Homo sapiens: one gene and its partners. The protein of the gene in region 1 purifies or fractionates together with the protein of each later gene. This does not show direct contact. Each region holds a gene or a part of one and is shown on either strand. Other genes may lie near its edges.

Evidence for each region.
Region 2: the proteins of SSB (region 1) and RO60 purify together in Homo sapiens (affinity purification with mass spectrometry; 3 studies listed by BioGRID and IntAct, with this or other methods). This does not show direct contact.
Region 3: the proteins of SSB (region 1) and PUS7 purify together in Homo sapiens (affinity purification with mass spectrometry; 2 studies listed by BioGRID and IntAct, with this or other methods). This does not show direct contact.
Region 4: the proteins of SSB (region 1) and TRMT6 purify together in Homo sapiens (affinity purification with mass spectrometry; 2 studies listed by BioGRID and IntAct, with this or other methods). This does not show direct contact.

Annotation. Positions count from the first base shown.
Region 1 is NC_000002.12:169,794,474-169,801,885, forward strand, and holds the start of SSB (lupus La protein), read left to right. Parts: upstream 1-4,397; 5' UTR 4,398-4,503; intron 4,504-4,828; exon of another isoform or gene 4,829-5,043; intron 5,044-6,478; 5' UTR 6,479-6,487; coding exon 6,488-6,553; intron 6,554-7,412. UniProt on the Homo sapiens protein: Binds to the 3' poly(U) terminus of nascent RNA polymerase III transcripts, protecting them from exonuclease digestion and facilitating their folding and maturation.
Region 2 is NC_000001.11:193,069,587-193,076,612, reverse strand, and holds part of RO60 (RNA-binding protein RO60), read right to left. Parts: coding exon 6,979-7,026; intron 6,060-6,978; coding exon of another isoform or gene 5,994-6,059; intron 794-5,993; coding exon 573-793; intron 113-572; coding exon 1-112. UniProt on the Homo sapiens protein: RNA-binding protein that binds to misfolded non-coding RNAs, pre-5S rRNA, and several small cytoplasmic RNA molecules known as Y RNAs.
Region 3 is NC_000007.14:105,477,271-105,484,296, reverse strand, and holds part of PUS7 (pseudouridylate synthase 7 homolog), read left to right. Parts: intron 1-1,856; coding exon 1,857-1,985; intron 1,986-3,119; coding exon 3,120-3,245; intron 3,246-7,026. UniProt on the Homo sapiens protein: Pseudouridylate synthase that catalyzes pseudouridylation of RNAs.
Region 4 is NC_000020.11:5,940,519-5,947,544, forward strand, and holds part of TRMT6 (tRNA (adenine(58)-N(1))-methyltransferase non-catalytic subunit TRM6), read right to left. Parts: intron 6,016-7,026; coding exon 5,888-6,015; intron 4,397-5,887; coding exon 4,287-4,396; intron 3,736-4,286; coding exon 3,644-3,735; intron 3,514-3,643; coding exon 3,430-3,513; intron 3,166-3,429; coding exon 3,041-3,165; intron 2,269-3,040; coding exon 1,910-2,268; intron 1,519-1,909; coding exon 1,433-1,518; intron 828-1,432; coding exon 725-827; intron 622-724; coding exon 535-621; intron 1-534. UniProt on the Homo sapiens protein: Substrate-binding subunit of tRNA (adenine-N(1)-)-methyltransferase, which catalyzes the formation of N(1)-methyladenine at position 58 (m1A58) in initiator methionyl-tRNA.

The DNA of each region.
Region 1 (7,412 bases):
CTTCTCAGCAATATGTACTCAGTTGGTCCCTCCTTCCTTGAAACATTCCACTCTTTAGCTTCTATGGTGCCATATTTTCATAGCACCTCTCAGGGTCTGCTTATTCTAGCTGCTGTACAGGCTTCTCTTCTTTTATTCATTATCCAAAAAATTCGAATGCTAGAGGGGTCAGTCTGGGATCCTCCCATCTTTGTTGTCTATACTCTTTTTAGGAGAGCTCATATAATGACATGACTTAAAATGTCTGCTATATACTAATAGTTCCAAAATTTATATCTTTAACCCTGACTTCTTCAAACTCATACCAACTGCCTACTTGACATCTTTACCTTGATGTCTAATAAGCATTTCAACCTGAAACTGAGGGCTAACCTGATTTGGCCCACCAAACTTAACTTGTCTCATTTGTTTTTAGTTAATTTTAAAAGCTACATATTTAATAGCTAAAAGTCATGTAGCTAAGCAATATATACATAAAATTCCATTAGCTTCCTTACAGATTACATATCTGAGATATAGGTCACCATGGTAATGGTTGCTTGTTTTTCAGGAACTTAGAGTTAGCTCTTGTCCAGCTTAAGCCAGCTGAGACCAACAACTCTTCAACTGGGCCTGCATGAGTGTCCAATGGGTGACCTTTTGGCATCACAGGACCAAGAGCTCCACCCTCAGATCATGCTAAAGCTGCAATTTTGTGGACATGTGTCCTATGAAGAGCTATGAAGCTTGACTATGCTTGTGCACAGCACCAGTTGCCTCACTGTTTCTTACCCCAATTACCTTTCCCCATGCCTCAGACCACCTTGCTCCTTTATCCCGTAAATACCCTAAAACCCCATCTTTGGGAGCTGGATTTGAGATCTGTTCTCCTGTCTCCTCACTTGGCTGCTTCATGAATAAACCCTTTCTCTGCAGCAAAATTTGATGTCTCAGTGATTGGGCATATTGTGCAACAGGCAGAACAAGCCCAATTCAGTAACAAAACCAAATCTTCAAAATAGAGCAATGCTATTACCCTAGACTAAATGTTCTTAATATGAGGCTGGGAGCAGTAACCAGCCTCATAATTAAGAAGCTGTTTCGAAATGTAGGTGGGATTTTTCATTGTCACAGTGACTGGGGGTTGCTACTTATATTTCTTCTGAAATCTCTTTTTAAACTCAGCATTATGTTTGTGAAATTTATCAATGTCAATTCATGTAGATCTAGTTTATTTTTCTCACTGTATAGAATTTCATTATTTAATTATATCACAATTTAATTTAGTTACCCATTCTTTTGTGGTGAACATTTAGTTGATTTCCAGTTCCCTAAATTTACAAACCATATTGCTATGAATATTCTTTTTTTTTTTTTTTTTTTTTTAGCGACGGAGTCTTGCTCTGTCATCCAGGCTGGAGTGCAGTGGCATGATCTTGGCTCACTGCAATCTCCGCCTCCCAGGTTCAAGCAAGTCTCCTGCCTCAGCCTCCCAAGTAGCTGGGATTACAGGCACGTGCCACCATGCCTGGCTAATTTTCGTATTTTTAGTAGAGACGGGGTTTCACCATGTTGGCCAGGCTGGTCTCAAACTCTTGACCTTGTGATCTACTCTCCTCAGCCTCCCAAAGTGCTGGGATTACAGGCATGAGCCACTGCACCCCGCCCGAATATGCTTGAACATGTTTTCTTGTGTACAGATGTGAACATTGCTCTAGAGTATAATCTTTTTTTTTTTAATGAGACAGAGTCTTACTCTTGTCGCCCAGGCTGGAGTGCAATGGCGCGATCTTGACTCTCTGCAACCTCCACCTCCCAGGTTCAAGCAATTCTCCTGCTTCAGCCTCCCTAGTAGCTGGGATTACAGGCATGCACCACCATGCCTGGCTAATTTTTGTATTTTTAGTAGAAACAGGGTTTCACCATGTTGGCCAGGCTGGGAGTATATTCTTTAGAGTGGACTTTCTGCACCATCAGCTATGCACATCTTAAACTTTAATAGATATTATCAATTTGTTCTCAAAGTAATTGTACTAAGTGTATACCCAGAAAGATGGTCTTTTAGTGTACTGACTTACAAAGTTATGCTATGAGAGATGGATACCAGTATGAGAGAGAGTCCTCTCCTAGGTACTGTAAATGAAACATGAAGCTTCCTGGTCTGCCGCCAGGAATTCATTTTCCTCAGAGGGTGTGTCTGCATGGAACTCTGCTTCTGGAAGGGAACGAGGGAGAAAAAGAAAAGATAAGAAAAGGGTTGGACATGGTGGCTCATGCCTGTAATCCCAGCACTTTAGGAGGCTGAGGCGGGTGGATCACCTGAGGCCAGGAGTTCGAGACCAACCTGGCCAACATGGCGAAGCGCTGACTCTACTAAAAATAAAAAAATTAGCCAGGCATGGTGGCGGGCGCCTGTAATCCCAGCTACTCAGGAGGCTGAGGCAGGAGAATCACTTGAACCTGGGAGGCAGAGGTTGCAGTGAGCCGAGGTGGTGCCACTGCGCTCCAGCCTGGGCGACAGAGGGAGACTGTCTAAAAAAAAAGAAGAAGAAAGAAAAAGATAAAAAAGAAAAGACAAGAAAGGGAGAGCAAAGGACCAGGGACCTGATGAGAACATGAAATAAATGTTTTTTTTGCCGGTGTGACTTCTGATAATAGGCTGTACTGCAGTTCTGCCCAGATGTTGTGGGACATGAAGAAGCAGTTATATTTGTTTAGGTGGCTCTGTCTCTAGGCAGATTCTGACTCTTCTTTCTATTCCCAGTGTTAAGCCTCCATACCAGGACATTAACAGGCATGTAATAAACAGTTAGCTGAATGGATGAATGAGAGTACCCTGACACTGATATTATTTGTTCTGTTAAATACATATATTCTCACTGACTTGATCAAAACAAGAATTAAGGTTTCAATTGTGTCTGGCATAAAATAGAGAGTAGATAAATATTCTTTGAGTGGATAAAAGATAATCTAATTAATTTGAATTTAAACTACCTGAGCACAACCCTGTTAAATATGTTTTTTCTCATTGGCCTTAAGAAAAGAAAAAAGAGCCCAGAGCAGTTTGAACTATGTGAGGTATGCGGAATTTATCAGGCACAGAGAGATATGAGTTTGGGACTTCAGTCATGTCCCTACACCCCTGTATTAGTTAGTTCTCATACTGCAATAAAGACATACCCAAGACTCGGTAATTCATAAAGAAAAGAGGTTTAATTGACTCATAGTTCCGCATGTCTGGGGAGACCTCAGGAAATTTACAATCATGGTGGAAGGGGAAGAGGCATGTCTTACACAGTGGCAGGTGAGAGGGAGCGAGCAAGAGCAGGGAAAACTGCCCTATAAAACCACCAGGAGAACAGCATGGGGGAAACCATCCCCATGATCCAGTCACCTCCCACCCTGTGTGTGGTTCCTCCCCTCCACACTTGGGGATTATGGGGATTACAATTCGAGATGAGATTTGTGTGGGGACACAGAACCAAACTATATCAGTCGCCATGCTTGGGGGGCAATTGTTTCAAGTCACTTTGTCCCTTACTACCTGCTTCATCCATTTTCATGTTCTTCGAATTTGTGATACAAAGAAGAATGTATAGCCAATCAATAGCTTGTTATTGTAATGTAAGTTATCGGTAAACAATTTAGGAACTGCCTCTTCTTTTTTCTTTAAAAGCTACTTGTAAGTGCTGCTAATCAGAGCATATATTCAGGGCAATTTGAATCCATGCTCTCATGTGGCAGTCCTCAAACTTGGCTCAAATAAACTGTCTACTTATATTAATTTTGCCTCAGTTTTTCCCTTTAGGTTGACAATATTGCATCAAGTTGAATACTCACAGCAATTGTATGAACTAGGTAGTATTTATTACCGGCCCTATTTATACCTGAGGAACAGAGAAGTTGAACAACTTGTCCAAGATCACAGTTTCACAGCAGGAGGACCATTATTTGAAGCAGGCAGTCTGATTCCAGACACCCAGTTTTTACACGCTGTACTGTATTGTTTTCAAAACTCTAAGATTTCATGGATCTTTGATTTTTTTTTTAAATTTCACTTGTCCTTTTTTTTTTTTTGAGAACTACTACAACACGATGTGTGTGTGTATTCACACACATTTTTGGAAAATATCTGAAAAAAAACCCAAAGCACTTCACATGAATGGAGGGCCAAAGGAAGGGCTGGGGTACAGACGCCGTCCAGAAATACTTAAAAATAAATGTTTATACTAACACAAACTAGCAGCCATTCCCCTACAACCTGGAGTACTTTTTAACCCAATCTGTTTGGGATTGAGGGCGGGACTCCAGGGTCCCTGGGAGGCCCCGGCAGCCGCGCATGCTCAGAGCACAGGGACCGCTCCACCTCGTCCGTGGCCCTGCCCACCCAGGCCGCAAGAGCTGCCGGGACGGTCCCCATCTTCTTGGAGCGCTTTAGGCTGGCCGGCGGCGCTGGGAGGTGGAGTCGTTGCTGTTGCTGTTTGTGAGCCTGTGGCGCGGCTTCTGTGGGCCGGAACCTTAAAGGTGAGTAACTCTCGGTGGCTAATGAGAAGCTACAAAAGGGTCCGCTTTGCTGGTGCGCGACTGCGCGTTTCCGTTCTTTACTGCTTCTCGCGGCGTCCGTCCGCCCCTCGCCTTCCTCACGTTCAGGCCGAGCGCCGCGTGGGCCGCAGCCGGAGGCGGCGGAGCCGAGGGGGCGCGGGCGGCGGCGAGGCTGCCCCCGCGAGGAATGCGGGATCCTGGGGTTCCCCGCACGTGGCTGGTGCCCAGGCAGTTCCGCGGTTGCTTAGAGACGGGACTGTGGCTGCCCTCATCCCCATTGCGTCTTTTTTTTTTTTTTTTTTTTTTACCTCCACCGCCTTCTAGTCTCACCGAAGGCTTGTGGCCATCTCTGTAAAGTTTCTGGGGAGGTGGGCACGGGGTAAACGCCGGAGGGTTCTGTGGAGCCTATGGGACTGACTGGAGGCCAAAGAACTTTGGGCCGCAGATGTACACCAGCGTCACTCTTTTGGTCTGTTAGGGCCTTCATCGCTCACATCAGGTTTCAGTGTGAAACGGGAAAACGTGGGTAATATTTCATTTACAGTCGTACATTCTGGAAAAGTATCTGATGAAACGCAGTTCCAAAATTAGGCCAAATAGGTTTTGCAGGGTCTAAATAGTTATTTTATTTCATCGTTTGCTTTGTAGGGGGCCCTAGATCACGGTAGTAACTTAGGAGTGTAGATTGTGATAGACAAGACAATGCATAAAATTGAGTAATTTCTCTAGGGGGATGTGGATCACACAGTACCCCGTTGCAAGTGCTTCCTATGTGTATCCATGGTATCGAATGCAATTGCAGTGTGTCAGGGGATGCTTCCAGGAAGTGTACCTACATCAGTTCATAACTAGAGTCAACTAATGGCAATATTCTCGATGATTTGTTCACATAACTTTTGTACAGTTGGGATGACTGGGTGGCTTAGTAGAGTCCTGGAGGCAAGTACTTTGTAAGTAGAAGACTTGGTTTGTAATTTCTAGCAAACTAATAGCACAGCTTCCTTTTTTCATTGCAGTGCTAATGTCAGGAATACGAAACAGGAAACTGGCTATCCAATGTATTAGTAAATTAGTAGGCATACTCCCCAGTTTAATGTTGTGTTAGTATGACCACATTCTCCCATTTTTGTTTTCGTATGTTCCTTAGCATAGAGTATCTAAGGAACTGTAACATTTTTCACCTTAAAGTTATGATGTCTAACTTGGTAACAAGGTTTGGGTAAGTCAGTTGTGACTACATTTTAAAAGAAATGAGGCCGGGCGCGGTGGCTCACACCTGTAATCCCAGCACTTTGGGAGGCCGAGGCGGGTGGATCGCCAGAGGTCAGGAGTTCAAGACCAGTCTGACCAACATGGTGAAACCCCGTCTCTACTAAAAATACAAAAATTAGTCAGCCGCAGCCGTGGTGGTGGGCGCCTGTAATCCCAGCTACTCAGGAGGCGAAGGCGGAATCGCTGGAACCTGGGAGGCAGAGGTTGCAGTGAGCCGAGATCGCACCATTGCACTCCAGCCTGGGCAACAAAAGCGAGACTCCGTCTCAAAAAAAAAAAAAAAAAAAGAGGTGAACCCATACCAAACAAATGCACAGAGAGCCATGGTAATATACAGATAGATAGTTATCTGTTTAAAACTGGAAATGGTTGGTAAGTGATTGGAGTTTTTTTCCCTAAAGCTTGCTTGACCAGCTAAGTGAAGATAAACAGTTTCTTGTTATAGAAGATGGGGTAGTGATTTACTGAAAGACAAGTTTTTTATAGTTTTTAGATTTTTTCATCACTTATTCCAAAGTGTTGCTTTGTTGAGATATTTGAGAACTGAGTAAAGAAACTGAACCCGTGAAAATAGAAATTCTTGATTTTTTAAGAAAACGGGATATTAATACTTTGTAAACATTATCTTTCTATTCTTGAGTTTTATATAAAAAATAACTTTATGCTAATTTGGGAAATTTTACAGATAGCCGCAATGGCTGAAAATGGTGATAATGAAAAGATGGCTGCCCTGGAGGCCAAAATCTGTCATCAAATTGAGGTATGATTCCTGTGCTATAAACTGCAAAAACAAGTTCCTTGAAAGAAAATACAGAAAGAACATTTAATTCTAGTACATGGACATATTCAACATTTGGTTTGCCTTTGATTCTTAGATGAACATATAATAGCATACAGTTTTATATTGGTGGAGCCAGGTTGTGAAACTTAAGATGTACAAACATTTCAAAAGGTAACACTATAAACTAGAGTTACTTAATCTTTTTAAAATTTTAGTTTCATAGTCTCATATAAAATTTTAGCTTCATAGTCTCATATAAAATGAGAATAATAGTAGTTCCCTCCTCATAAGGTAGTTTGGAGGATTAGTGAATATAATGTTAAGTACTTAGAAGAATTCCTGACACATAAGTAACATAAAAGTCCTTGGTAAAGTACCTTCCCTGTTAAATAACACTATATTTTTGATGATCTTAGTTTTTTTCTGCCCAGTCAGTTCTCAGCTATTGTAACTTTAATATAGTTTTTTTTTTTTTTTTTTTTTTTGAGATGGAGTCTCACTCTGTTGGCCACGCTGGAGTGCAGTGGCACTATCCTGGCTCACTACAACAGTATTGGCTCACTGCAGCCTCTGCCTCCTGGGTTCAAATGATTCTCCTGCCTCAGCCTCCCAAATAGCTGGGACTACAGGAGCACGCCACCACACCTGGCTAATTTTTGTATTTTTAGTAGCGACAGGGTTTCACCATGTTGGCCAGGCTGGTCTCGAACTCCAGACCTCAGGTGATCTGCCCACCTCAGCCTCCCAAAGTGCTGGGATTACAGGTGTGAGCCACTGTGCCCAGCCAGTAACTTTAATATAGTATCTGTTTTCAAAACCCTCTTAGCATTTTTTCAAA
Region 2 (7,026 bases), on another chromosome or scaffold:
ATACTAAAGATACTTCTGAATTTCCTGGTTCAAGTACTGAATTAGCAGTCATCTTTCCTAGATTCCTTAGTAATGCAGTAAGCGGCATTTCTTGTAACAAAGCCTTCCATACCTATTGCAATAACATAGGCAGAAATACCAGGAATTAAGGGAAAATAAATCAGTATAACATACCTATATAAAAAAATATTCATAATACAGTCTCTGAGGCTTTCATTTGGGGTTCAAAGTACTTTCAGAATGAAAAATGTCTAAGTAAAAGGCTTATCAAATAAGCTAACTTGTTTTTTACTAGAAAAAGGATGTGAAGTATATTTTATGAAGGAAATGCATAGATGATTTTTTTTTTAATTAGCAAGGCAGTAGATTTTCTGGAGTGAAACTAACACAAATGCCACCTACATCATGTTGGACATCATGGTAGGTGTTTTAAACAGACATCAATTTCAAGATATATTTTAAATAATTTCTTTTTAAAAGTATAAATATATAGCTACCCCAAGTTTATCCTTTTAGCACCTACACTAAATTACTCATGTTTAATCACATGCTGTAACATATAATTCACTCACCTCTTTAGACTTTAAGTGATTTGTTAAAAGATGTTCTCTAACTAATCTATGTTCTTCTATTAGATGAATGACTTCTAGCTCATCTCTTGTGCGCTTCACTTTCTCTACAGCCTCCAGATACTTTAATAATTTTTCAGTCTCCACAGAGAGTGCTTTTTCTTTATACAATTCATGAACTTCTTTCCAGCCCTTTGTAATATATTTGGTCACAATTGCAAGTCCTTTAACAAGATAAAGAATTGAAAAAGCATGCAGGATTACCAAGTAAAAAAACAGAACATGTTTCCTCAAAATGCATTATATGATCAACATAACTGGATACACAAGAGTTAATGCCCTTACACTGGGATGCTGCTTTCCATGATATAACAATTAAGCAAATGGGGTGAATTAATTTTCTTATTCCATCATTACTATTTAAATATGAGACTTTAGAGTAAAAAAACCTGTATCCTGAGTATTTTGTTACAGAGGCTTTTCTTTCTTTTCTTTTTAAAGACACCAGCATTAGAAAGTTTCAGGTCCATAATCTCAGAACAACTCACGAGAGTACAGATCTATCTCAATTAATATTGTATTGTATTGTAATGTATTATATTATATTAATTATATTCACTTGTCTCTTTTTGCTGTTGAATAAAATATATATATTTACAAAAACAGCAGAAATAAGTAGAAGTGGACAGGGTAGCTTCTTTTACACTATGTTTTAATAGCTGAGAAGTATTACTGCTCAAAAAAAAAAAAAAAAGGAAACAGTAACTTGTTGATTTCCTCCACAATTTCTTCCAATAGAAGAAAGAGAAAAGAGCCTTGGATTGGGGGTGAGAAAGTCTGGGTTCTAGCCTATACTCTGCCAATAAATGGTGGTCTTTCTAGGTCTTAGTTTCACCACTTCTGTAAAACAGCAGGGATTGGATTACAACATTAAAATGTCTATGAGGGACAAGCAAATAAAATAAATAAAACCACCACGGTGAGGCCAGGCACCATGGCTCATGCCTGTAATGCTAGCACTTTGGGAGGCCAAGGAGTGTGGATCACCTGAGGTCAGGGGTTTGAGAACAGTGTGCCCAACGTGGCAAAACTCCATCTCGAAAGCTGAAACTGGATCCCTTCCTTACACCTTATACAAAAATTAATTCAAGATGGATTAAAGACTTACATGTTACACCTAAAACCATAAAAGCCCTAGAAGAAAACCTAGGCAATACCATTCAGGACATAGGCGTGGGCAAGGACTTCATGTCTAAAACACCAAAAGCAATGGCAACAAAAGCCAAAATTCACAAATGGTATCTAATTCAACTAAAGAGCTTCTGCACAGCAAAAGAAACTACCATCAGAGTGAACAGGCAACCTACAGAATGGGAGAAAATTTTTGCAATCTACTCATCTGACAAGGGGCTAATATCCAGAATCTACAAAGAACTCAAACAAATTTACAAGAAAAAAACAACCCCATCAAAAAGTGGGCGAAGGATATGAACAGACACTTCTCAAAAGAAGACATTTATGCAGCCAAAAGACATATGAAAACATGCTCATCATCACTGGCCATCAGAGAAATGCAATTCAAAACCACAATGAGATACCATCTCACATCAGTTAGAATGACGATCATTAAAAAGTCAGGAAACAACAGGTGCTGGAGAGGATGTGGAGAAACAGGAACACTTTTACACTGTTGGTGGGACTGTAAACTAGTTCAACCATTGTGGAAGTCAGTGTGGCGATTCCTCAGGGATCTAGAACTAGAAATACCATTTGACCAAGCAATCCCATTACGGGGTATATACCCAAAGGATTATAAATCATGCTGCTATAAAGACACATGCACACGTATGTTTATTGCGGCACTATTCACAATAGCAAAGACTTGGAACCAGCCCAAATGTCCAGCAATGATAGACTGGATTAAGAAAATGTGGCACATATACACCATGGAATACTATGCAGCCATAAAAAGGATGAGTTCATGTCCTTTGTAGGGACATGGATGAAGCTGGAAACCATCATTCTCAGCAAACTATCGCAAGGACAAAAAACGAAACACTGCATGTTCTCACTCATAGGTGGGAATTGAACAATGAGAACACATGGACACAGGAAGGGGAACATCACACACCAGGGCCTGTTGTGGGGTGGGGGGAGGGGGGAGGGATAGCATTAGGAGATATACGTAACGTTAAATGACGAGTTAATGGGTGCAGCACACCAACATGGCACATGTATACATATGTAACAAACCTGCACGTTGTGCACATGTACCCTAGAACTTAAAGTATAATAAAAAAAAATTAGCTGGGCGTGGTGGCACATGCCTGTAATACCAGCTACTCAGGAGGCTGAGGCAGGAGAATCACTTGAACTGAGGAGGCAGAGGTTACAGTGGGCCAAGATCGTGCCACTGTGCTCCAGCCTGGCCAACAGAGTGAGACTCTGTCTCAAACAAACAAACAAACAAACAAACACAGTGATGTAATAGAGAGTTGTTAGGGTGTGGTGACTGAACAGAGTGTGCCCTGACAAGTGGTGTAGACACGTATTGACTTAGTGCTGCCAAAAGAAAAAAAACTTACTTTCAAGAGAAGCCAGAATATGGGTTTTTATGTCGATTTTTAAAGATAATGACAAAGAATTCATTTTTACCCAAAAATATTGTATAGGCCACATGAAACACATCTCTATGCCAACTGAGCCTATTATGTTATTTTTGAATGCTAAATAACTTGATCAAAAGTTAACACTAACATGCAGGAACTTCTCAAGTATTGTGACTCTTGCTATCTTCCAGATTTTGGTGCAAAATCATCTTAAATGAGTAAATGTTTCCTGTGAGTATATCTTCTATTTTGTTTTTCCAGTGAAAATAAAAATTCCTTAAAGCAGTTTTATCCTACCCGGTTCTGTAATTGCGCTGGCCATGCAGTGGGTGCACAATAAAAATACCATACCTGATGACTTGAATCACATTTTGACTTGTTTTGTCTGTTATAAATACACATTACACTTAAAGGCATTAAAATACTATTAATTCTGTAGCTTAGAGTTTTTCCAAATTTTTAAGCTTTGAAATGCTAGGGATTCTCTGTCCAATGTGATATTGCTATTACTAACATGGTTTCAACTGTGAGTTCTGCCCTCAACAATTTCAAATTAAAGAATCCTATGTGTGGAAGTAAGTTTAGGAAACATCTACTAATTCCTCATTATATAGACCAAAAAGACAAAGCACAGAATAATTATTTTCACAAGTTCAGAAACTAATTGGTCCAGTTAGAACTAGTAATGGGCGGTCTTTCTCTTAGTCTAGTACTTGCTCCACACTTCCAAGACACATCTCAACAAACCAATAAATAAAGCTGGATGCCTAAGTCCTTCTTATGTTGGATCAAATATTTGGATAAAAAATTTAAATGTAAAAAATAATGTTTCTTAACCAAGAAAATGTTAGGAAAAAACCACAGATAAATATTTTAGGTTGGAAAAGGCCCTTCTAATCCTAACACAAAACATAAACCTATGAAGACATGGATAAATTTGACTACATTAAAATTCAAAACTTTAGTGTGCCAGAAATGTCCCCCAACCAAAAAAAAAAAAGACAAAGAAAAAAAAGAAGAAAAAATGCATGCACTGTATATAAATAATACATTATCAACTCCTCTAATATGAACCCCAAGTTCTTAGAACAGTTTCTATCCATAGTAGGTGCTCAATAAATATTTGCTGAGGGCCAGGCACAGTGGTTCATGCCTATAATCCCAGCACTTTGGGAGGCCAAGGCAGGCGGATCACCTGAGGTCAGGAGTTCGAGACCAGCATTACCAACATGGTGAAACCCTGCCTCTACTAAAAATACAAAAATTAGCAGAGCATGGCGGCAGGAGCTTGTAATCCCAGCTACTTGGGAGGCTGAGGCAGGAGAATTGCTTGAATCTGGGAGGTGGAGGTTACAGTGAGCCTAGATTGTGCCATTGCACTCCAGCCTGGGTGACAAAAGTGAAACTCCATCTCAAAATAAATACAACAAATAAATAAATAAATATTTGTTGAATGAATAGTGATCACAATCAATAGTTAAAAAGACAGTAACTAAGTGGACAAAAGGGCTATGATGTAATTGTATAATTATACATATATACACACACATACATATATATTATATATACATACATATAATTATATGCATACATATATAGGTATATATATGTATATAGGTATATATATATTACATACTATACTATATACTAACATTATATATTATATATACTATATTATACAATATATAGGTGTATATATATATATAATCAGCACATGCAAAGATGAGCTTCTGCCCAAAAATGTAAATTCAAAGAATCTTTCATGATTCTACTGAAAGAGATTAAAAAATAATGACAACAGTTAAGTGTTCAAATGTGGGTACACTGATCCCTTTCACATACTGTTTGTGGATTTAACCATTATGAAAGTAGGTACTCTATGCAAGTGTTTTCATTGTAGTATTTTTGTAACAGTATAAAAAAACCAGAAACAACTCTTGTCAATAAGAGACTAGCTAATAAATTACAGTCATACAATGGTATATATGCAACTATTTCTACTGACCTGAAAGAAACAGCAATAGCAATAGCAATAATATACTTTTTACTGAAACATAGAAGGCATGTAACAAAATTTAGTGAAACACAGTAATATATGTTTAGGAAAAATCTGGAGTAAATTACAACATCTGATATACAGCAAGGGCCCTCAACTCCCAGGCTATACACGGATACCAGTCCGTGGCCTGTTAGGAACTGGGCTGCACAGCAGGAGGTGAGCAGCAGGCAAGTGAGCTCCACTTCCTGTCAGATCAGTAGCTGGGCATTAGTCTCATAAGAGCACGAATCCTACTATGATCTGAGCATGTGAGGGATCTAGGTTGCGCTCTCCTTATGAGAATCTGATGCCTGATGATCTGAGGTGGAACAGTTTCATTCTGAAACCACCCTGCCCTCCCCACTGCCTGCGGAAAAACTGTCTTCCACAAAACCAGTCCCTGGTATCAGAAGGGTTGTGGACTGCTGATATGCAGTTATTTCTTTTGAAGAGTAGGACTGCATCATATTTTTCTGTATTATTCAACTATTTTAAAACATGTAATCTAATAAAATCAAAATAAAATGTTTATACATATAAATATTTGCAATTTATTATTTACATTTCATTTGAAAAACCCCAGTTATAGTTAAAAAATAAGTCAGGAATTACTGAAGAGATTCTGTATATAAAAATATGTGTGGAAGGGAGAAATAGAGAACCAAAGTGTACTTCTACTACATGTTAGGTGCTGGGACATTTAGTCTCAATAATTGTAAGCTTATTCTCCTTACCCTCCTTTTAATAGATGAAGGTCAGAAACTCAGCTTAACTTACTTGGCTTAAGTCCACAGAACTGAAATGTGAACCCACCCTTCTGAGTGGCTGTCTTTTCAAGTTTCACTTCCGGTGCAAAAAAAAAAAAAAAGTCAAATTTTGAACATGTTGATTTTTGTGGAACTTCACACTTCAAATTACTCCTGCCCAAGAGTTTTTCTTATTTCTTTTCTTAAAAGGACTAGTAATTATTACGGAGCCAACTAACTTTTCAAAAGTCTCTTTCCATAGATACAGAAAAACTGCCCCAAGTTATTATGTCCCCTGACTAACTGCCTGAAGACAATTAACTTCCTGAATTGTTAAGTTCAGCACTATATCTGGTATATTCCTTTAGGTTCCATGGAAGATGGGTTCCTAGGAAGATGGGGAGGGAAAAAAGGAATGGGCTAGAGCAGTGGGTACAGCATGGCCATCTGCCGCCTACTGGCAAGGAGCTGATTTGCTTATTGCAACTTTTTTTTTTTTTTTTTGCTTTTCTACTTAGCATTTTATTGGTTACAGAGTAGTTTTCTATACATAATCTTAAGGAACAGCTGTGTACAGTTACCTAAGTTTTACAAACGATTATACTGAGACCAAGTTTGAATATCTGATGAGTAACTGGCAAAGCTGGAACTCAAAAGCAGTTCCTTCTAGTGACTGTACCCATATCCAAGGCTTATTGCAACTTTTAGTCTTGCCCCTGCTACTTACACAGTCCAGAATCACTTGGGTGAGCATTCCAGTTAGGACGGTGGCATTTTAAGATTCAGAATATTAACCTATAAACCTGTCATTTGATTCTTGATTATTAATGTCTGGATCGCCTGTGGTAGGGGTGTAATCCCAGGAAGGCATTAAATATATTTGAATTAATGTATATTTTGAGAATAAAAGGCTATTTCTAGAAAATATTACACACTTGTCTTATGTTAAATAAAAATTTGCTATTTATTGAATATCCCTTACCCACCCTTCTTCCCAATGAAGATCTTATGCTTACCTTCACTGGAAGGTTTAAGATGTGACAATCTTAATAGATCTTTGTGAG
Region 3 (7,026 bases), on another chromosome or scaffold:
ATATAGAAACACAGTTTCAGTCAACACAGTAATAATCAATTCAGCCAACAATCATGCTTGGGTACCTAAATAATTGGGTAAAGACTTTGGGGGAACAGGATTTTTACACAATTTCAAAAGTATTTCCCCACTGATGACTAATTAAAAGCAAAGACAAAGAGACTCTTAGAGTGTAAAAATCTAGTAAATACTATCCTAATTAAATGATTAAAGTTATTATCATTGTTGGACAAAATCACTGCCTTTTGATGTGATGCATTGAAAAGGGCCATATCACCTCAGTAATATTTCTACCAAAGTGTTTACCTGAGTCTCAGCATGAGGAAACAATCAGATAAATCCACATTGAAAGACGTGTAAAAGCGCTGGCCTGGATTCTTCTAAGGGCCAGATATCATGAAAAACAAGGCTAGACAGATCACTTAGTGGAAACCAAACAGACATCACAGCTGCAATGTGTGATCCTCAATTGGATCCTGGCAGCCTAAAAAACAAAAAGATGGCCAGGTGCACTGGCTCATGGCTGTAATCCCAACACTTTGGGAAGCTGAGGTGGGTGGATCACTTGAGGCCAGGAGATCGAGACCAGCCTGGCCAACATAGTGAAACTCTGTCTCTACTGAAAATACAAAAAAACATAGCCAGGTGTGGTGGCATGTACCTGTATTCTCAGCTACTCGGGAGGCTCAGGCAGAAGAATCTCTTGAACTTATCTCACGCCTGTAATCGCAGCACTGTGCGAGGCCAATGTGGGTGGATCACCTGAGGTCAGGAGTTCAAGACCAGCCTGGCCAACATGGTGAAACCCGTCTCTACTAAAAATATAAAAATTAGCTGGGCACGGTGGCTCATACCTGTAATCTCAGCACTTTGGGAGGCCGAGGCGGGCGGATCACCTGAGGTCAGGAGTTCAAGACCAGCCTGGCCAACATGGTGAAACCCCATCTGTACTAAAACTAAAAAAAAATTAGCCGGGCATGGTGGTGTGCGCCTGTAAGCCCAGCTACTTGGGAGGCTGAGGCAGGAGATTCACTTGAGCCAGGGAGGCAGAGTGAGCTGAGATCATGCCACTGCACTCCAGTCTGGGCAACAGAGAGAGACTGTCTCAAAAAAAAAAAAGGAAAGAAAGAAACAACATTGGGTGTTAGTGGTGACACTAGAGATAAAAAGGGGAGAAAGGCTTTTCAGTACTCTGTTTCTCTATATACATTTCCTATTGAAGAAGGCAAGGAATTTCTAATGAAAATTTCTATATATTGATAGCAGCATGATACAGATTTGGGTAGAATTCCAGCTATATATAACATGTCTTTTAAAAAAAGAAAGGGAGGAAATAAAAAGTTAGATGTCAGTGGAAATTTTTTTCAGGCAATGAAAATATGAATTTCTTTTCCTTTTCTCTTTTTTATATTTTCCAAGTTTTCTGTAATGAGTTTACAAAATTTTTCTGATTGACAAAAATAATGACCTTTTTTTAAATGCTTGATACCATTCTTTCTATGGGATTTGTCTCTGTCCCCATCCCTTTTCTCACCCCTCTCCCCACAAAAAGTAGAAAATTCCACAGATATTATTGTTCTGTTACTCATCAGCATGTAAATAACAAGAGGCTTTAAGTATATAAAATATGGCCAGGAGTATGCAATTTGAACAGGAGCACGTACCATTACACTGAAGGAAGAATGCAGAGAGAAGAGAAGGACACGCCCACCTCACCTGCTGCAGTGCCTTTTCCTTTCAGGGGGTCATAGGTGTGCTGTATCTTGTTTTCTGTACTGTTCCAAGCAGACAATCAGTATCTCATGATCCTCTTTCTACTCTTTTTTGTTTTGTTGCTTTTTTTTTTTTTTTTAAAGAATAACTGCACAAAGACTTGCCCACCTGAATAAGTGCTTGATGAACTTTAAGCTAGGGAATTTCAGCTATCAAAAAAACCCACTGAAATTGGGAGAGCTTCAAGGAAACCACTTCACTGTTGTTCTCAGGTAAAGAACTGCAGGTGGGAATGTAGACCAGAGGGTCTGGCCAGGGCATCTTGAGTATGTTACTCACGGTTGGTCATAAGGTCCTGGTGAGCTGGTACTAACAGAACAGGAGTGGCAGCAAGGGAGGGCAGAGCAGGGCCTGGCAGGGCTGGGAGAGCAGATACCTCTGTGAGAGCAAATACCTCTGTAGGATTTGTGTGGACACCTTGCCCCTTGAAAACCTAGTGCAGCCTTTGGAAAGACACCATCTCCTTCAAATATTGTAGTAAAAGACACCGAGCCGGCTGGGCGCAGTGGCTCACGCCTGTAATCCCAGCACTTTGGGAGGCCTTGGCAGGTGGATCACAAGGTCAGGAGATCGAGACCATCCTGGCTAATACGGTGAAACCCTGTCTCTACTAAAAATACAAAAAATTAGCCGGGCGTGGTGGCAGACACCTGTAGTCCCAGCTACTCAGGAGGCTGAGGCAGGAGAATGGCGTGAACCGAGGAGGCAGAACTTGCAGTGAGCCGAGATCGCTCCACTGCACTCCAGCCTAGGGGACAGAGTGAGACTCCAACTCAAAAAAAAAAAAAAGACACTGAGCCTGTGATTCCACTTAAAGCGCCTAGAATAGGCAAATCCATGGACATAGAAAGTAAAATAGTGGTTACTGGGGAAAGGGTAGGGTAGGGGTAATGGAAAGTTACTGTTTAGGGGTACAGAGTTTCATTTTGGAAACGGGAAAAAATTTGGGAAGTAGATAGTGGTGAGGATTGTCCAACATTGTGCATATAATTAACCCATTTATGCTAGTGTTCCATTATTGGAACACTAAGCATGTAGGAATTATTTATATCCTACTGCTCAAGGTCATCGCCAAGGTCTGATTGCAAAAATTCAAAAAATTGCAACCTCTGCCATAAATGGGTTAATACCGCCAAATTGCACACTTAAAAATGGCTAAAATAGTAAATTTGACATTATAAATATCTTACCACAACTTAAAGAAAGAAAGAGCCCTTGGGAGGTAGAGAGAAAGCTGCAGGAGAGTGAACGAAAGACTTGGAAGCCAGGCCGTAGTCATTTATGAGCTGCATCCCTGAGTATTTGACTGTAACTTTTTTTCCTCTGGATAATTTGTGTCCCTGTAGAAATATAACAGGAACTGATGACCAAGTACAGCAAGCTATGAACTCTCTCAAGGAGATTGGATTTATTAACTACTATGGAATGCAAAGATTTGGAACCACAGCTGTCCCTACGTATCAGGTTGGAAGGTTGGTATTTAATTTCTTTTATCAAAAATAGCTTTCTCATAAACAAAGCAGGGTTTGTTGGTGGTGGTGTTTTTAATTATTTCTACGTTCTCCCATGTCTGGGGCAAATGAACCACAGTTTCATGATTTTTGTTTTAAGTTAATGAGTGCACAGGGTAAAAAATCGGAGTTCAAAAGGATATGACCTGAAAAGTGAGCTTTCCTACCACTCTTGGTTACCCATCCAGGGGTTCTATTTTTATTTTTTTATTTTATTTTATATATTTATTTTTTCTGAGACAGAGTTTCGCCCTTGTTGCCCAGGCTGGAGTGCAATAGCGCAATCTCGGCTCACCGCATCCTCTGCCTCCCAGGTTCAAGTGATTCTCCTGCCTCAGCCTCCTGAGTAGCTGGGTTTACAGGCATGCGCCACCATGACTGGCTAATTTTGCATTTTTAGTAGAGATGGGGTTTCTCCATGTTGGTCAGGCTGGTCTCGAACTCCCAACCTCAGGTGATCCCCCGACCTCAGCCTCCCAAACTGCTGGGATTACAGGCATGAGCCTCCACACCCAGCTATTTTTTTTATTTTTTATTTTTTTGAGATGGAATCTTTGTTGTTCAGGCTGAAGTACAGTGGTGCAATGTTGGCTCACTGCAATCTCCACCTCCCAGGTTCAAGCAATTCTCCTGCCTCGGCATCCCAAGTAGCTGAGATTGCAGGCTTTTGCCACCACATCCAGCTAACTTTGTTGTATTTTTAGTAGTGGCGGGAATTTCACCATGTTGGCCAGGCTGGTCTTGAACTCCTGACCTCAAATGATCCGCCTACCTCAGCCTCCCAAAGTGTTGGGATTACAAGTGTGAGCCACTACGCCCAGCCCTATTTTTATTTTTATTTTGTAACAGGTAAGTCTTGGCTCAGTAAGTGATTCAACAGTAATCTGTTGGGTAACTCAGACCCAGAGTAGCCAGACAGAGATGTCACATTTTCTGATCTGTGTTAACACGTTTATTAAACTTTGATCTGCCCTTCCCTCGCTCTTAATTTTATTTTATTTTTTATTTTTATTTTTTGAGATGAAGTCTTGCTGTTGCCCAGGCTGGAGTGCAGTGGTGCCATCTCCGCTCACTGCAACCTCCACCTCCCAGGTTCAAGTGATTCTCCTGCCTCAGCCTCCCACGTAACTGGGATTGCAGGCATGCACCACCTCACCCAGCTAATTTTTGTATTTTTAGTAGAGCCGAGGTTTTGTCATGTTGGCCAGGCTGGTCTCGAACTCATGACCTCCAGTGATCTGCCCGTCTTGGCCTCCCTAAGTGCTGGGATTACAGGCATGAGCCACTGTGCCTGGGCCCCTTCCCTCACTCTTTAAAGAATGTAATAAATGATAAAATTAGTGACATGGAATTTAAGAATTGTCATTTACTTTTAAACAATTAAGAACCCCTCTAGGGTAACCTACAGTGGGAATCCCATCAATAAATAGTTGGGTTCCTAAATCTACTTCTGGAATCCTGTTGCCCAGCAGAGACTCTGTTACATAAACTAATTATTCGCGTGGGAGTTAGAATTGTGGTAGTTACAAGCTGGAAGTTATCTAAGCGTCCATGTTCTTCCTTGTCTTTCAGACCCTTCATGTTAGCAAACTTAGGCTTTGAGAGGTCTGCCTGAACTCATCAATTGCTTGGCTTTAGTTTGGGAGTAGAGTTTTCCGGGCTTCCAGTCCATTGTTTCAGCATCTAAACTATGAAGTTGCATTCATTTTTGTGATTTTAAAAGCGCAAAATGATAAAAATCTATATTTCCTCTGCCTCTTTGAGGAGGTTAAAAAGCTCAGGTGAAAACAGACTTGAGTTCTGAGGCTTAAATTACTCATCTGTAGAATGGAGATAATAATACCAATTCACAGAATGGTGAAAATGAAGTGAGATGATGTTTATGCTACATCTATTTTTATGCCTAGAATATAGTGATTGCTAATATGTTTTCAACCTTGCTAATGGTCAGAGGACATTGATAAAATAGTAAAAATGCTAATTGTATTATGGGACAGAATAAGGGAGCACTGTATCAACCTGTAAATTTGTAATTAATTTGGCAGAAGGACAGCCATGGAATCCTATACGTTGTGTATGCCAAAGATAGTGTAAATAAATATAAGTAATTAAAATGAGGTCAAATTTATCCCACAACAAAAATTACATAGCGTGACCAAAGGTCAGTACGGTCAGCTCAAAATTCCAAATCATTCATTTTCACAACATAAGAATATTTCCTGCTTTCAAGGAAACGCACTGTTAACACCATAGAATTTCCTGAGGGAAAAAACAGACTTTCAGTTTATATTGTATAGGTGGAGAAATGACTTGTATCCAAAATATTAAAAGCTCTTACAACTCAAGAACAGAAAGACAACGCATTCTAAAACTTAGCAAAGGGTCTGAACAGACCTTTCTTTAAATAATGTAATCAAATGGCCAATAAGCACACAAAAAGATGCTTATCACTAATCTTTAGGAAATGCAAATCAAAACCACAGTGAGATGCCACTTCTTACCCACTAGGATGGCTAAAATAAAAAAGGCAGAGAATAACAAGTGTTAGGATTAGAGAAATTGGAACCCTTATACATTCCTGGTGGAAATGTAAAATGGTATAACGATTTTGGAAAATAGTCTGACAGTTCCTCAAAAGGTTATAAAGTTAGCCTATGACCCAGGCATTTCTAGGTATATACTGAGGACAACTGAAAATCATATGTTCACACAAAAGTTTATACAGATGTTCATAGCAGCCAAAAGACTGGAAACAACCCAAATGTCCACCTACTGATGAATGGATAAACAAAATATACAATGTAATATACAATAATATACAGTGGAATATTACTTAGCAATAAAAAGGAATGAAGTACTGATACATTCTGCAACGTGAATGAACCTTGAAAACATTGCTAAGTAGGCAGGGCACAGGGGCTCATGCCTGTAATCCCAACAATTTAAGAGGCCAAGGCGGCAGGATCACTTGAGGCCAGGAGTTCAAGACCAGCCTGGGCACCATAGCAAGGCCCCATCTCTACAAAATAAAATTTTTAAAAAATTAGCTGAGTGTGCTGCTGCCTGGCTTTGGTCCTAGCTACTCAGGAGGCTGAGGCAGGAGGATCACTGAAGCCCAGGAGTTTGAGGATGCAGTGAACAGTGTACCACCACTGCACTGTGGCCTAGATGACAGAGCAAGACCCTGCCTGTGAATGAATGAATGAATCAATTTCTATGAAATTTCCAATGTGAGCAAATCTATAGAAAAAGAGCTGGAACAGGACCAATGGGGAGTGACTACTAATGGGACAGGATTTTTTTTTGGTGGGGGTGGGTAATAAAAATGTTGTAAAATTGTGTAATGCTCCACAGTTCTTTAAAAATACTAAAAGCCATTGAATTGTACACTTACATGGGTGAATTATATGTTATGTGAATTATTGAATAACTCAGCAAAAACTTTGAAAAAAAGAAAGTGAGCCAGGCACAGTGGCTCACGCCCGTAATCCCAGCCCTTTGGGAGGCCGAGGTGGGTGGCGGATTGCTTGAGGTCGGGAGTTCAAGACCAGCCTGGCCAACATAGTGAAATCCCGCCTCTACTAAAAATACAAAAATTATCTGAGTGTGGTGGCATGAACACCTGTAATCCCAGCTACTCGGGAGGCTGAGGCAGGAGAATTGCTTTAGCCCGGGAGGCAGAGGTTGAAGTGACCCAAGATTGTACCACTGCACTCCAGCCTGGGCGACAGAGTGAAACTGT
Region 4 (7,026 bases), on another chromosome or scaffold:
AAGAGAAAAAAAGGGTCACAAAAAGTCAGGGGCATATTCTCTGAGTAACAGCCATGAGAAATCTCCATCCCTGTAGAAAGAAACAGAGACATCTCTATTTTTATTTTGTTTTGTTTTTGAGAGAGGGTCTTACTCTGTCACCCAGGCTGGAGTGCAGTGGTGGGATCTCGGCTCACTGCAGCCTCGACCTCCAGGGTTCAAGCAATCTTTCCACCTCAGCTCCTGAGTAGCTGGGACTACAGGCACCTGCCACCATGCTCGACTGATTTTTATATTTTTTGTAGATACAGGGTCATGCCCAGCCAATTTATGTATTTTTTTTTGTAGAGACAGGGTTTCACCATGTTGCCCAAGCTGGTCTTGAACTCCTGGGCTCAAGCGATCTGCCTGCCTTGGCCTCCCAAAGTGCTGGGATTACAGGCATAAGCCACTGTGCCTGGCTGAGATAACTCTATTTAATGACTTCTAGTACTACTGCAAGGAAAGTCAAGTCTCGGGAGGGCAGCTCTTGGGACTGGCTGTAAGAACACGTACCTGATAATTTCTGAGCCAGGTTTCAGACAGCCTGAGGTTGATGACCCCTCCCCTCTCCCGCAGTTTTGTGTAGCATTCCAACAGAGGCTGCAGACAACAACAGAATTCTGTTAAGAACTACTTCCTGGGATGCAGTTTAAGAATCAACATTCAGACATAAGAATTCCTGCCCATTCCATTCCAGTATTACCTCTTTGTACTGACAGTAGACCACAAACGGCCTTGAAGGGGCCACAAAGTCCAGCAAAGACAGCAGCAGGGGAGTGGGGTGGAAACGACTAGCTACAATTAAACTGTAAGGAAAATGCCAGACAAATTATTTCTCTACACCCTCAAAGTGGAGCACAGGTTTTAAAATGCATTTAAAATGATCATGTATTTAATTTGCATGACTCACAAAGAGAAGAGATTTAAATATAACATTCTAGAAATCCAAAACAGAATACAATCATGAGCTATTTCTTTCTAGGAAACGCGAACTAGGTTAGAAGCTCTTGTGGTACTTGGCAACTCTAAGTCGCATTTAATGACATTCTTGATTTTTTAAAAAAAATCACCTGGAAACAAATCCAACACTGCATAAGCTGCTTTGTGGATATCTGTTATAGCCTGTATCGCAGCATTTGAGTGCCCCATCCCCTGCATCCAGTGGGACCACAGGGCCCATCTTGATGCAGTGATGGAGAAGATTCAATTTCTTCTGAAACCCTGAAACCAGCATCATCAATTCCCCACCCCTGCCAGCCTCAGCCTCCTTTCTTTAAAAAAACCCCCAAGACAAAATCCTCATCTCGGGTCCCACTAGAGTCAAAGCAGACAAGGAGAAAGAGAATGCCAATCTGTCTGAAGCAGAGCCCACATGCACTGAGGAGTCTCCTGCCTTCTTCCATCAACGCACCCATCTGCGTTTCTTTCACTCAGCAGAGCGGCAGCCTCTAAATGTCTTTTCCTCTGCTCTTCTTGTCTCCTCTGTTTTTCCTGAATCTTCAAAAAGAAAAATAAGAAATCAATGTACTGGGGTCTTTCAGTCAAATTTATGGAAATGCTCTGGCCTGTCAAAACATTTCAACAATATTTATCAACTTGGACTAAACCAATAGAAGCAGGTTGTTTATAAGGAAGTTGCAAATACACAAGAAAGCCTATATACTATAAAAACCATGATTAAGCTATCTATGCAACGCTTCTGTATCCTAAAGCTCCATCCCGAAGACCGAATCACACGTTTGTATACATGTACACACACTCGTTCTCTGTTTTGATAGTTATCATCTTGGGAGCTAATACACCAAAGCCAAACTAAATCTCATGACTTAACTGAAGTTAACTGAGGGACTGAGATTATGGGGGTGGTGGGGACTCTTGGCATCCTTACATAATCTTTTTTGCTTCCTCTCTCTTTAGGCCCCTTATGTTCTGGATCTTGAGAAATTGTTTCCATTGTTTCCTGGTCTTCTGGGTGGTTGCTCTCTGGGGCCTCTGCCATGCTGTCTTCATTCTCTTGTTCAGAAGCCTGTTTTTCCTCCAGTGTGCCATTACTTTCTTCAACCAAAGCACTGTCTTTTGGCTCTGAAGATAACATCTTGGCAGAAAATGTTCCATGTAGAAGACTGTCCACTTTGTTGAGAGGGAATTCATAAAGACCACTGAGAAAAGATTTGGGAAATCCAAAACATGCTGTTGCTGCCCGAACAGGTCCTCCTCCAGGGTATAGCTGAATAATGGAGCCAAAACCTGAACAGATAAAAGAAACAAACATCTGCCCGTGGAGTGACTCTAGACTACGTAAACCCTCAGTGAGTCCTCCACAGTAATGAGACTGAAGGTCTTTCTATTAGTACTTTATTCAGAGGCTGAAGGATGGTGCAGCTCCTCAGGGAGTCTGTTTGGAGTCTATGAGTATTACCAATGGAGGTAATATAATTCTAAAGCAGATAGCAGGAAGACTCAAAGAAGCTTATCCCCACTTGATACTATTGTAAAACCCTGTGTCTGCAAATTTGGATGTCACATGATTGGTGACGGACTCTGCTTCCCCTCACTCCGATCCTCAAATGGAGCAGTTACAAGTTCTTACCTTCTATGGGGTCAGAAAAAAACCAGACAAATCAGGCTGTGTTGTATTCTTCCAGAGAGAATACATGCTTAGTAATCTTCCCACTCAATCCCTTCAATTTAGGCCCAATGAAATGAGCACCAGCTACCCAGGAGTTTACTAAAATCACTGTCCCGAAAGCCCTAGCCAGCCACAGGCTCCAGCATCATGCCCACTGACAGTGAAGCTAGAAAGGACAATTGCCATGGGTTTGGGGGTACCCATGGGTGGGGGGCTGGGTGATGGAGACTGTGTAAGAAGGTCCCCATGCTAGGAGCCGTGCAGGTTCACCCAAGTCACTTTGTTAACCCTGAAGTAATTCAATTTGGCTTTCCATGAGTTTACATTTTTGGACCACCTTTACTCACATCAGGGTGGGGTTTTGTTGAAAATGGAAATATTAAATCTTACCTCCCATTCGTTCCATCATTGCACCCAGCACCAAGCCTGCACACGTTTCCATCACAATCATTTTGTTGCCAGCACGGATATTTCCCAACGTCAACATCTGGGCTAGTGTATCGTATCTCATGTGGCTAAAGTAAAAACAATAATTTGTTCATTTTTAGCTAAGTAAAGCCTATTATTTTAATCATCATTTTTCAAGTTTTGTTTGCTTTATTAAAATTGTGTTGATAAGATTATTGATTGCTTTGGAGGTGACAGTAAAAGGACTTACAATTTATGAGGTAGGAGGATACTTTATGCAGGTGAGCAAGCTTTTTCATTTTACTTAAAATCATGACTTTCTTAAAGACATATTTCCCCCAATTATACTTTTGAAAGGAAACAAAGCGTACTTAATTTTTCCAGGTTCTCTTGCATAATACATAATTGAAAGAATACGGGTGGATGGCTTCACAACAGTAATGATGGCTTCATATCTGGGGGAAGAAAAAACAGAACGCTGATTTAAAAAAATGACTTAAAATATTTTATTTGTAATAAAATGTATATTTTATAAACATATAAGAAGTTTAATATTGTGGGCCTTTTAAAATAAAAACTACTTACTTTTTTTTCTTCTTTTTAATATATTTATCTTGGGCAAATTCTGTCTTGTCTCGGAATGTTGTACTATTTTCAATTAACTGCTGAACTATTTCCTATAAGAAAAGGAGCAAGTAGATTTTCTGAAACTTTACTTTCACAAAACAAGTAATTTCCAAAGGCTTCTTACCCAAGAATGGATCCAATGGTCTGATTCTCCAATCCCTTTTCCACAGAAGTCCAAATAGATGAACTTTATATTTCTATACTCTATTTGGAATTTATAATAAAATACAAGTACTTTATAACTCCACTTAAACCAACGTAAAAGAACAGAGATATCCAACAAAAGGAGAAGAGAGGTAAAGGAAACTAATTTCTGAAGACACTGGCTGAAAACATTACTGAAAATGAACAAAGTTAAATCCTGATATGCACTGTTATTACATTCTCTACCACTGACATTAGTAATGTCATTCACTTATATTCCTGTATATAAGACATAAAATCTTTGAAATGTTGAGTAACATGTACATTTCAACCTATTTCTATCAAAGCTATAACGTTATTTTTTTGTTTTACCTTAGGTACAGTCTGCTTTAAAAACCCAACAGTTTCCTAAATGCCAAACAGACAAAAACAAAACTAAAAATCCTTTGAATATTACCTCTCCTTTAATGCCCTTGTCCTTCAAAGCTTTTATGTCATCTTGAGTAAGTTTCTGAGATTTCCCATCATCAACTATATTTCGATTATCAGTGCCCGCTTCTTTAGTCTCTAAGGAAAGAAATTGCTCTATTGACATTTATGGTCTGAAATTATTTGACACTTTCTTTTTCTGAGTTCATATCCACATCCAGTCCATCAGCCACTCAAGTCTGGCCTCCCAGCTGCACTGCCCCCATCACACTATCCTTTCCTGCCAAAACTACTCCAAGCCTCTAAGTCATCTTCCTGCTCCCAGTCTTGCCCCCCTACTATCCACCTGGATGCCAGAGTGCTCTTTGTTTAAATGCAATTTGACTCATCTACCCCATGCTTAAAACCATACAGTGGCTTCCCATAGCAATAAGAATACACTCCAAAGATGACCTGCAAGGTCATAAATGATCTGGCCCCTGCCTATCATTCCTGGCCTGATCTCTTGACACTTTAGCTTCAGCCACAATGGCCTTCTTTCTGTTCCTTGAACACACCCAGCAAGGTCCCACAGCAGGCTTTTGGCACCTGCTGCTTCCTCTGCCTGGAAGGTTCTACGACAGATGTCTGAGTGGCTGGATCCTTTCTATCACTTGAGGCTGAGCTCATTCTCTTGCTTTACCAAATTAGTACACGCCCCTGCTTTATTATCTTCATAGCATGTGTCACTTCACCATCAGAAATCATGCTGTTTGCTTGTCTACTTGATTATTTTTGGTGTTCCAACTGGTAAGCACATTTTATACGACAGTCTATCTTATGAACTGCTATAATTGCAGCGCCAAATTATACCTGGCATATATTTGGTGCTTAGTAAAAATATGGATATTAATTTAAATGTATCTAAATAACAGGTTTGACTCAAAACTTTAACAGTATTTAACTTCAAATAATTACTTGTGTTTTAATTAATAAGATACTCTCAATGTTCATTTTAATAAATATAATTTTAATTAACAATAACAGCTTTTGGACAAGAGGTTGTTAAGAAATAATAATAGTAATAGCTAAAATTATGGGCCCTTACTAAAAGCAAGACACTATTCAGAACTTCCTATGAGTCATATCATAGAACACTCAATACAACCTAGGCATTAAATGTGTTTATGACCCTATTTTACATATATAAGGATATAAGACTCACAGAAATCAAATAAGTTGCCCAACGGTACAAGGCAAGTGATGAAGGTAGAAATTGAACTTAGCTGGATCCAAAACCAGACCTCTTAACCTCTACACCATATGCTAACCACCTCACAGCTGTTACATAACTTCTGGGCACTGAAAGAACTTTACATTATGTTCTTGCAATGACGCAGCAACGACTCATAGGATTAAATGCCTGGCCCAAGAACAGAGAACCATTTAATGGTGGGCTGGAGCCAGAATCCAGGTTATCTCATGGCCAAAGGCAGTACTTGCTTCACTCCACTGAGCTGCAGTTCTTAGATTATGAGTTAAGATTTCTTTTGGGATAGCATGGCCTAGCACTTGGGAATTAGGTGGAGGCTGAGATGTTTCTGACTAGTCAGTTGGAGAGCATCTATTTCACGCATCCAAAATGTGCACCTGCAGTAGGCTCTTCCCTCTTCTTCTTGGGCTGTAGACTTCCTCCACTGGTCACTTCAAATGCAGTTCCATAACTATGGCCAATGACGTTATCCAGGTAGAACCACTGTTTTTCGAAAGTTACTTTTCTAGGGAAAAAAAGTAATCAATTAACTGAATATCTTTTCTATCCAGTACAGAAAAGACATGTTCACTACAGTTTATTTCAAAAGTGGTCTCCACAATGGATGATCAGCAGCATTATCTCTGAACATAAAGCAACAAAGGAACTAGAGAGAACCTGGTTGGGATAGAGACGTAAAATTAATGAATAAGCCACAAGAACACTGAATTTTGGAAAGGGGAAGCAAAGACTCATCGAAGTAACAAGGATTTAACAAATTTCTTGGGCTTGGTCTGATCGGCCATTTTATTTGAAAATTATCTAATAAAAGCAAATTATACTTGCAAATAAACACTGACAATCTACACACTTGGAAATGGAGCCTAACACTGACAATGCTCTACTGAGGACCAGGCAACTTGAGGTTTCCTATGACATAGATTTTTTATCTTATTGCAATTTAAAAGAGAAATCCCACAGGAACACAATGCTTTCTTCTCAAAAGAAAACTAACATCTGCTGAGTGCCAACCAGGGGCTAGGCAGTGTGTGCGAGGTGTGATTCACACTTTTTGATTTAATTCTCACGGTAATCCTGGGACATAGCTCTTTCCAGAAGAGCAATCCGAGGCCCAGGGAGAAGTATCTTGTCCAAGATTCACAGTTGCAAGGTGTTGTTGGAGCTGGGATTCAAATTCAAATCTGTGTCTGACCCCAAGCCTCATTCTTTCCACTATACCACACGGTCTACTCCAGCAAAGACCTAAGGACGGTAGAAAGCCCACCTAGCTTCAGGACATGGCCCATGTGCACAGAACACTGAATTCTGGGAATCATGTGGTGGTTAATTCTGATTGTGCCCCATCCCACTCCTTCTCTTCCTTTCTCTGTGCCACCAGGAAGCTGATTACGACAGAATATACTGCCACATCACCCACGCTCCCGTGTCAGAGGCTTACCACCATTGCTGGTCTCTGGGTGTGTCACCTTTATTGGTTCCCTAAATCGGCCACACTTTTGAGTCACATCTTCATTAA